Homo sapiens: one gene and its partner. The protein of the gene in region 2 purifies or fractionates together with the protein of the main gene of each other region. This does not show direct contact. Each region holds a gene or a part of one and is shown on either strand. Other genes may lie near its edges.

What was found. The genes of interacting proteins can lie anywhere in the genome.
Region 1: the proteins of CIRSR (region 2) and TF purify together in Homo sapiens (affinity purification with mass spectrometry; one large-scale study listed by BioGRID and IntAct). This does not show direct contact.

The regions. Positions count from the first base shown.
Region 1 is NC_000003.12:133,793,228-133,797,148, reverse strand, and holds the end of TF (serotransferrin isoform 1 precursor), read right to left. Parts: 3' UTR 508-3,921; downstream 1-507. UniProt on the Homo sapiens protein: Transferrins are iron binding transport proteins which can bind two Fe(3+) ions in association with the binding of an anion, usually bicarbonate.
Region 2 is NC_000002.12:174,353,222-174,358,796, forward strand, and holds part of CIRSR (corepressor interacting with RBPJ 1), read right to left. Parts: intron 1-5,575. UniProt on the Homo sapiens protein: May modulate splice site selection during alternative splicing of pre-mRNAs. Regulates transcription and acts as corepressor for RBPJ. Recruits RBPJ to the Sin3-histone deacetylase complex (HDAC). Required for RBPJ-mediated repression of transcription.

The DNA.
Region 1 (3,921 bases), on a different chromosome or scaffold from region 2:
TTATAAATTAGGACACCATCCAATGTTATGCAATTGGGATCATACAGTATGTATCATGCTTTTTCACACATCATGAATATTTACCAATTCAAAATTCCAAAGCTATGTAAATGTTTGTTTGTATACACAGCAAAGTAAAAGGAAATGCAGATATAAGGGACAACAGTCAATTGTGTCATACTGTAAACACACTGATATAAAGCCCTTTGCACTTTCTTCTGCTCCTTCCTCCCTGAATCAGCATAAATATAATGTGAAGTGGTTTGATCAATTTCCAAAAGACAATGTTTCATATGAATCAAAAGGATATCTACAAAATGTGTTATTTACTACCTCTACTTTTAACATACTGTGTGCACTTCTAAACATCTAGAAGACTAGATGTTTCAAATAAGGACTTAATTTTGTCCACTATATGTCCAGTAGTGTTACTACTGGAGGGTGTCCAGGTTCTTGGCTTCTTGAACAAATAATTGGACAAAATGCACAAACAAAGCAAGGAAAGAATGAAGCAACAAAAGCAGAGGTTTATTGAAAACAAAAGTACACTCCACAGGGTGGCAGAGGGCTTGAGCATAGGGGCTCAATAGCCCGGTTACAGAATTTTCTGGGGTTTAAATACCCTCTAGAGGTTTCCATTGGTTACTCAGTGTATGCCCTATGTAAATACAGAAGACATTTCCCATCATAGCTGAAGTGTTTCCATTTGATTTAGTTCTAGGAAGTGAGCATGCATCTGCCTTATATTCCTTGCCTACAGACCCTATTCTTCTGCCTCATTTCCCTCCAGAGATGGGATCCCCATAAATCTTTATGGGAGGTGGAGGGGCCGATGGTCTTTCTTTTGTAACTGCTTCATGTTGGCTTGAGGCCTAGTCCCTACCTATTGAGGATCACAGAAGTCCTGCTCTGCTCTTTCTAGTGAAGGCAGGGTAGCTCCTTGATGGCCAGGGGTGGTGGAACTGGATGAAACTTTTGTTGCATGATCATCTGAAGCTTGATGGTCTTTTGGCGAGAGGAAATTAATTTGGTTAAAAGATTTAATGGGAACTCAGGGGGTGGATATCTATGCTGTCAGGAATGTTTGTTATAGAGATTTGTAGGAGAAAAACAAAACCTGGCCTGTGGTCTGTTCTAGGATCTATGTGTTTCCTTAAGGTCTTGGCATACGTGACTCCGTTTTGGTTTAGTTTGGTCTGTTGGGGCCTGGCGCATGGGCTCAGTACAAAAAAATGACCTCCCATAATTTTGTTTAAAAAAAATTCCCCTTTTTGGCCAGGTGCAGTGGCTCACGCCTGTTATCCCAGCACTTTGGGAGGCCGAGGTGGGCAGATCATGAGGTTAGGAGATCGAGACCATCCTGGCTAACATGGTGAAACCCCGTCTCCACTAAAAATACAAAAAAATTAGCCGGGCGTGGTGGCAGGTGCCTGTAGTCCCAGCTACTCGGGAGGCTGAGACAGAAAAATGGCGTGAACCCGGGAAGTGGAGCTTGCAGTGAGCCGAGATCGTGCCACTGCACTCCAGCCCGGGTGACAGAGTGAGACTCCATCTCAAAAAAAAAAAAAAAAAAAAAAATTCCACTTTTTTGGTCAGGTTCTCACTTAAGTGAGAGTGTGACCAAAACTTAGGGCCTTACTTAGCACCACTCTCAGTTACCAACACTTTGGGCTTTTGGACTCAGCACATCATTCGTAGGTTACAGTGTCCTCATGGCTGCAATTTCTTTCAGCTCTTGTCATTCCAGTTGAAGAGAGGCCATTTGACATTCTAGAGGTGGCAGCATGCAAACATTTAAAACCGTTGAGAGAATACAGCACACCAGGGAGACTATTATTATGACTATCAGGAGGATAATACCAAGAGTTGAGAGTAAGTATGCTCCTTATCCAGGGTCACCATAAACCAAACCTCCTAAACTCAAATAGATTAAACAATGAGCTAAAGAGTCTACTCACTTAACTAAGCAGTCTCTTCATTAATTTGCTACAACTGAATCTCTATAATACCTGATGTTTTCTCCATAGGCCATGAGTGCCAGCAGCTGCACAGATACTCTTCTGTTTAGCCAACTCTATTATTTAGCATAACTTTCTTAAGATAATTTAGTCTATTATGTAACCATAGCCTTTACAGTAAACTGCTATGGAGCCTATTATGAGGGATACATTTGCCTCTTTTATTCCAAATCATGGAAAAAGGACCTAAAGCTGGCTGCAAAATTCTTCACAAATAAAAGTATAACCCATAATTGTACACAACAGATCCTTTTTCCACTTCTATTCTTCATAGAGGCAAAAGCAAGGAAAAAATATTCAAAGATAAGAGTCTCATGATAATAGAGAAGTCTTGATTCATGATCTTGGGAAAAGCTGTTCACATCAAGGATGCCATCTTCTTCGGGAGAGAAACTTCCCTGGTTAGCTTTACCTTAAGGGTTCCAATGGGTGTACAGTTCCAAGAGTGTGGAGGGACTCTTCTCAGTTGTGAGATCATGAACCCAAAGTTCAAAGTCCAGAAGTTTTGCTGTAGTGTGGATGGCAAGGACAGTCTTTATCCAATGTTTTCAGAAGATACAATCTTCAGTTTCTAGGTTGTGAAGGAGTTGATTGTCCTCAGTGAACCATAAAAAGCTTTCTTTACCTTGTGAAAATACTTGGTGGCATAATAACTTAGTGTTATAACATCAGCCCTCTTGCATGGGAAAGCTTTTATACAACCAGAAAACATGCACTGAAAATAACAATTGAATAAAATCCCTCTATAAAATGTTTAAATGGCCTATCAGGTGACTGGATGTACCTGAAGCTTTGATTGTTTTCCCAGGAATATGGGACCAAACATTGGTTATAAACTATTTTAGCAATTTATAAGTCACCACATCAATATATTCAATTTGGATCATTTTATCTTTTCCGTGACGAGTCATGTAATGCAGAAATTTTACTAACAAAAGCTTTAACGACTTAGGAAGGACAAGGTGGCCATCCTGGTTCTCCATGAGTTCATGCTTAATTAACATTAGACTCATATCCTCTTGAATACCAGTTGTTTCCCCAAATTAGGTGCATAACACTGATAACTGATGGGTTATCATAGGTAATTTGATTTAAATGATGGAGTTTATTCAAATTTTATATCTAAACAGTTTCAGTATCAGCTGATTTAGCATGAAAATCTGGCAAAGTATTTTCTTGGTATTTAATTAATTTTTGTTCTACTTGGGTTAGCAGTTTTAGAACTCAGTCAGTCTTTTCATTAAAGTTCCAGGAATTCTTACCCAGTTCAAATGATATAATTCTAAACTTATTAGAAACCTGTATTCAAGAGTGCTTTTTAGGGTCCTTTCCAATCTTTCATGAATCTCCTAAAAGACACCATATTCTAGGACTTTGCATGCTTGTGAAGTTTTCAGAAACTGCATCAGCATTAAGCAATTAACTGTGGAAATGACTTTAAATAGTTATAGTTAAAAACACAATTGACAAGGAAATTTGGTTATTTCTGTGGTCTACAATAACATAATAATCATAATTATGATTGATAGCATATACTCAGACATATTGGAATTTTAGAAATCTCATACAATTTTGGAACATATATTAATATTATTCACTAAAATATAACCTGAAGAAGATTAAATTTTTTTCTTTTTGACAATGCTTCCCATGTAATTAAACATGTCAAATAATTCTGTTTACCTCTCTTTTGGATGCTTCAGGGGCCCTCTGCAGCATCTCAAAGTTAGAGGTTAGAAAAGACAATTTTGAAGCTGAAATTTGATTTTGGGAAGCCTATTAAATATGTTAAAGATTTAAAACACTTGACATTATGAAATGGAATTCCAGGTTACCATAGTCATTCATTTAGCAAAATGATGACTCAAAAATGTTTTAAAAGGCAAAAACCTTTCCATGTTGA
Region 2 (5,575 bases):
AAGCCTTATTTAGTTAAAAACAAACAAAAACACCTGTCTTATATTAATATTTCATTTTAAACCAAGAGGGTTTTTAATTTTTTTCTTCTATACAAAATGTTTAATTCCTATGTATTACTTTAATGGCCCTTTAATTATTCAGTCTGGTTGTTAACATTGATAATACAATCTTAAATAAAATTGAATTTTAAATATTAATACTGGTTGCCTCTAAATGGCATAGAGGTGCTCATACAATTAAGAGCTTTTTGTGTGTGTGTGTGTGAGATGGAGTCTTGCTCTGTTGCCCAGGCTGGAGTGCAGTGGCACGATCTCGGCTCACTGCAACCTCCGCCACCTGGGTTAAAGCAATTCTCCTGCCTCAGCCTCTGGAGTAGCTGGGATTACAGGCAACTGCCACCATGCCTGGCTAATTTTCGTATTTGTAGTAGAAACGGGGTTTCACCATGTTGGTCAGGCTGGTCTCAAACTCCTGACCTCGTGATCTGCCAGCCTCAGCCTCCTAAAGTGCTGGGATTACAGCCGTGAGCCACCGCGCCCGGCTCAATTAAGAGCTTTAAATGAATAATAGAATGTTTACTTTGGTGGCTTCTCAAATTTCACATGTAGGAACTTAATTTTATAAAGTAGAAAATGTCTCTTCTGAAGTGTCAAAACTACATTTCCTTGTCAACAATTTTATTAGATATCGAATGAATTCAGACACCAAACTTGTTAATAATTAGAATAAAAACCACTCCAATAAAGGGTCACAAAGCTTGGCCATCATGATGAGAGGTTATACTAATTTCATCAGTTTTCATCACAAGATGGGTAATTTTAATAAGATGTTATAGAAAGCATGCCTTCTTTACAGTACTTCCAACTATGTCAAGAAAATGATGTATTTCCCCAGTGTTACAGAGATTATACAGACTATTAAACAATCATTACTCTTCTAGCATTTATATTTTTCAAAAATCCCAACTGAAAACTCTGTGTAGTATATAAATTTAGCACACTTTCACAATGTATGACTGTAAATAGAGTGCTTAGTGAAGTGCTCGACAAATAGTACTTAATAAAGAGTAACAACTATTATTTTTACCAGTACCTATTCAACTTTCTTATATAAGAAATTGTCTTTTTATAAGATATATTATATATGTACATATATTACTTATATATGTACATATATATTTTATATATTATATATAATATATATTATATGATATATATAATATATTATATAATATAATATATAAAATATATATAATATATATTATATTATATAAATTATATTATATATATCATATAATATATTTTATATATTATATAATATATATTATATTATATATATTTTATATATTATATTATATATTATATATATCATATAATATATATTATATTATATATTTTATATATTATATAATATATATTATATATTTTTATATATTATATAATATATATTATATATTTTATATATTATATAATACATATATTATATATAATATAATATATATTATATAATATATATTTTACATATGTATATATATTATATATATATATATTTTTTTTTTTGGTAGAGACAGGGTTTTGCCATGTTGCCCAGGCTGGTCTTGAATGCCTCAGCTCAAATAATACACCTGCCTAGGTCTCCCAAAGTACTGGGATTACAGTTGTAAGCCACTGCACCCGGCCACTATCCAAATTCCATGACTATCTTACGGTACTTTTCATAATACAAAAAAATGCTCTTAGTAGTAATACTTTTCACAATGCAGTCTTATTCACATTTTTTTTATACTTAAACCTTCTCCTATCAACCAAAGTTCTGAGTTTAAAGTTCTAGGTTTAGGAGATGAAACAAGTCAGGTTTAATCAAGATATATTTAGCAAGTATCTTTCTACTTTCACATTATTATGACAGAGGCTACGTAGAGTTACACTGACAGAAATGACTCCAGATCTTTTGAGAACTCAAAATTTGGTTGATAAAATAGATGATTACAGATACGTTGATAAAATAGATTACACAAATATGTTCAAATGTAAAATAACTACTTTTATGTATGGTGCCTTAATAATTTCAATTATAGCTGGAGTTGGATCTTAAAAATTGTTTGGCTTATTCTTAAATTTGTCATGGTAGAATAATACTAGAGAATTCAGAAAGAAGGCATTTGTTCTAAAATGCAGATTTGTGAGGGCTCCTTTCTAGATCATCTCAGCCAAGCCTTCACAGCATTGAAAACCAATGTTCCCACTTAGAAAAGCAGGTCCACTGAAGAAACTGCTTTCAACATTCATTTATTTTACAAACTTTTCTTTGCTGTGATATGGATAAGTATCAAAATACCAATTGTGTACAGTTCCATGTTCTGATTAGACCCAGGCTCTACTAGAAAAATACCATGAAATCGAGTCTCAGGAAAGAAAAAATTCCTAGAAGGTAAATTATGCTATACAAAATTATGTGTGTAAAGCGCTTAATCTACTCACTAAGAGTATTCATTTTTACAGAACAAAAACAATGAAAGGTAAAAAAAGAATGTCCTGTTGTAAAATAGGTATTTTATCAAAGAATAATATATAAACTCAAAAGTTCTGGCTATGAGGAAATGGCATACAACTGACTCCACAATTATAGTATGGCAGTCCCAGGGGAATGCCACAAATGGCATAGGAGGGAGACTAAAGCTGAAGTCAAAGACACTTGTGTTTCACTGCAAACACTAGGTCCATCTGCTCCATTCGAAGTTCATCATTCTTTTCTTTAGCCAGGATGGTCTTGATCTCCTGACCTCGTGATCCACCCACCTCGGCCTCCCAAAGTGCTGGGATTACAGGTGTGAGCCACCACACCTGGCCCATCATTCTTTTCAAACAATGCATTATCACCTACAATTTTATGGTATTAAGTAGGAGAAAAGGGGGCAGTGAGTTGTAGGTTAGGTAAGGCTGAATTAGAAATGCCTTTCCTGGCCAGGCGCAGTGGCTCATGCCTGTAGTCCCGGCACTTTGGGAGGCAGAGGCGGGTGGATCGCCTGAGTCCAGGAGTTCAAGACCAGCTTGGGCAACATGGTGAGACCCTGTCTCTACAAAAAATACAAAAATTAGCTGGCCGTGGTGGCGCACATGCCTATACTCCCAGCTACTAGAGAGGGTGAGGTGGGAGGATCACTTGAACACAGGAGGTTGAGGGTGCAGTGAGCCTGTGATCTCACCACTGCACTCCGGCCTCAGCAACAGAGTGAGATCCTGTCAAAAGACAGACAGAAAAAAAGACAGACGGGAAGGAAGAAGGGAAGGAAGAAAGAAAGAAAGAAGAAAGGAAGGAAGGAAGGAAGGAAAGGAAGAAAGAAAGGAGAAAGAAAGGAAAGAAAGAAAGAGGGAGGGAGGGAAGAAGGAAGGAAGGAAGAAGGGGAAGGGGAAGGAAAGAGGACAGACTGACTGACTGGCCTGTCTCTCCTTCTCCCAAATTTAATATATTATGTACTTAATTTATAGGATGCCACTGTTGGCTGAAACTAAATTGCTACCCTAAAGTGAATATAGTTTTGCTTCCTATTACAGTGATGATCTATTTTTTTTCCCTTCTCATTGTGTGTGTGTTTTAATTTAACTTTATACTACGGAAAATTGCAAACCTACATCACATAGCTTCAACAATTAACAATATTTTGTCATTCTTGTCTTAGCTATTACTTCCAAATTTATTTTTTTCATAGAATATTTTAAATAAAATCTCAACCTCAATACCTTTATTATGCTTCTCAACATTGATAATTTTAAAATGTCATCGAATAGTCAACATTCAGATTTCTCAAACTGTCTCAAAAGTATCTTTTTACAGTTGGTTTGCTCAGATTAGGATACAAACAAGGTCCACATATTGTATTTGATTTATAGATCTCTTTTAATCTAAAACATTTACCTATCTTCCCCTCCCTATTGTTATTCATTTGTTAAAGAAATTGGGTAATTTGTCCTGTAGATTTCCCACATTCTGGACAGTGATGCCATTTAACATGTTTCTCTAGCTCTTATATTTCCTATAAATTGGTAGTTAAGTCTAGAGGCTTATTATTAAATTATTTTGATATTTTATACCACATACTTTGGGGGAATATATGGCAAGTTTTGTAAAGTTTGGATTTAGGAAAATGACACCTGAAAATACACTTCTGGTTAATTAAAACATGTTTCTAGCTAAAGAAAAAGGAGGCCAAGACTACTTGTATGTTCTTGTAATCACTTTCCCATGTATTTATTGCAGTCAAACTAACAGTAATATAACCATAAAAGTTGTTTTAAAATAAACCCCAACATTATCACAAATGAAAGAAAGTACAATCTTCTGTCCCTTTTTCTTTCCTAAAGTTAAATTGGCTATATCTAGCGAATAAGCCAGTCCCTGTCACTAAATGTAAAAAGGACAGTTAGACACTAGTTAGAGTATGTGATCAGGAGGGAGATATGTGTCTAATGGGACTTATCAAGAATTATCTTACACTTATATTTGATTACTAATATTACCATAACCTTTCTGCTTTTAAGAAAGCTTAAAGTTATCTTTTAAAAAGACTTAAAAAAGGGGCTCAGTAGGAACATGCAGCATAACACCCAGGAAAAAAAGTGAACAAAGCTATTAATAAAGTGTGTGGGTGATTTTTATTTATATAGATGTGAATGTTTTATGTATGATTTTCTAAAGGTTATGCAAGAACCAACTGTACTGAATTGTAATAAAACTGCTCCATACTGGGAATTTTCCTGACACACTGCCAGTTCATCTTAGTGGAGGCTGGAAACATAGGGTTTCTTATTGCCCTCATCCCAAGTTCATACTGAAGACAGCTAATTGATGTCTATTGAAACACACAATGTAAAGGAAAAACTAAACATTTCGTTTTAGTCTATGTGTCTGGAAAGTACACAAAGGCAAAGAAATATGAAACTGTCCTTATTGTATGCTAGTAAAAAAAATCACTGTTTATTAGAAACTTTGCCTTACACAATGAAGATATTTTATTTTTATTTATTTTTATTTTTTTGAGAGGGAATCTTGCTCTATCGCCCAGGCTGAAGTGCAATGACACCATCTCAGCTCACTGCAACTTCCACCTCCTGGGTTCAAGCGATTCTCCTGCCTCAGCCTCCCAGCAGCTGTGATTACAGGCGCTGGCCACAAAACCCGGCTAATTTTTGTATTTCAGTAGAGACGGGGTTTCATCATGTTGGTCAGGCTGGTCTCGAACTCCTGACCTCAAATGATCCACCAGCCTTGGCCTCCCAAAGTGCTGGGATTACAGGCGTGAGCCACTGTGCCCGGCCTAGAATGAATATAAAGATATATGACTTATATGTAATTACTTATATTTTCAACTTAATTTATATGCAAATATTTTAGTGATGATATATCTGGCAATAATAGTTAATTCATAGCCCTACAAGACTACAAAAAATCATTTGTGCTGTGATGAACCTGAAGTATTAGAAGTTAGCATTATTATTACTATTATTTTTTGAGACAGAGTCTCAGCCTGTTGCCCAGACTGGAGTGCAGTGGCACAATCTCAGCTCACTGCAACCT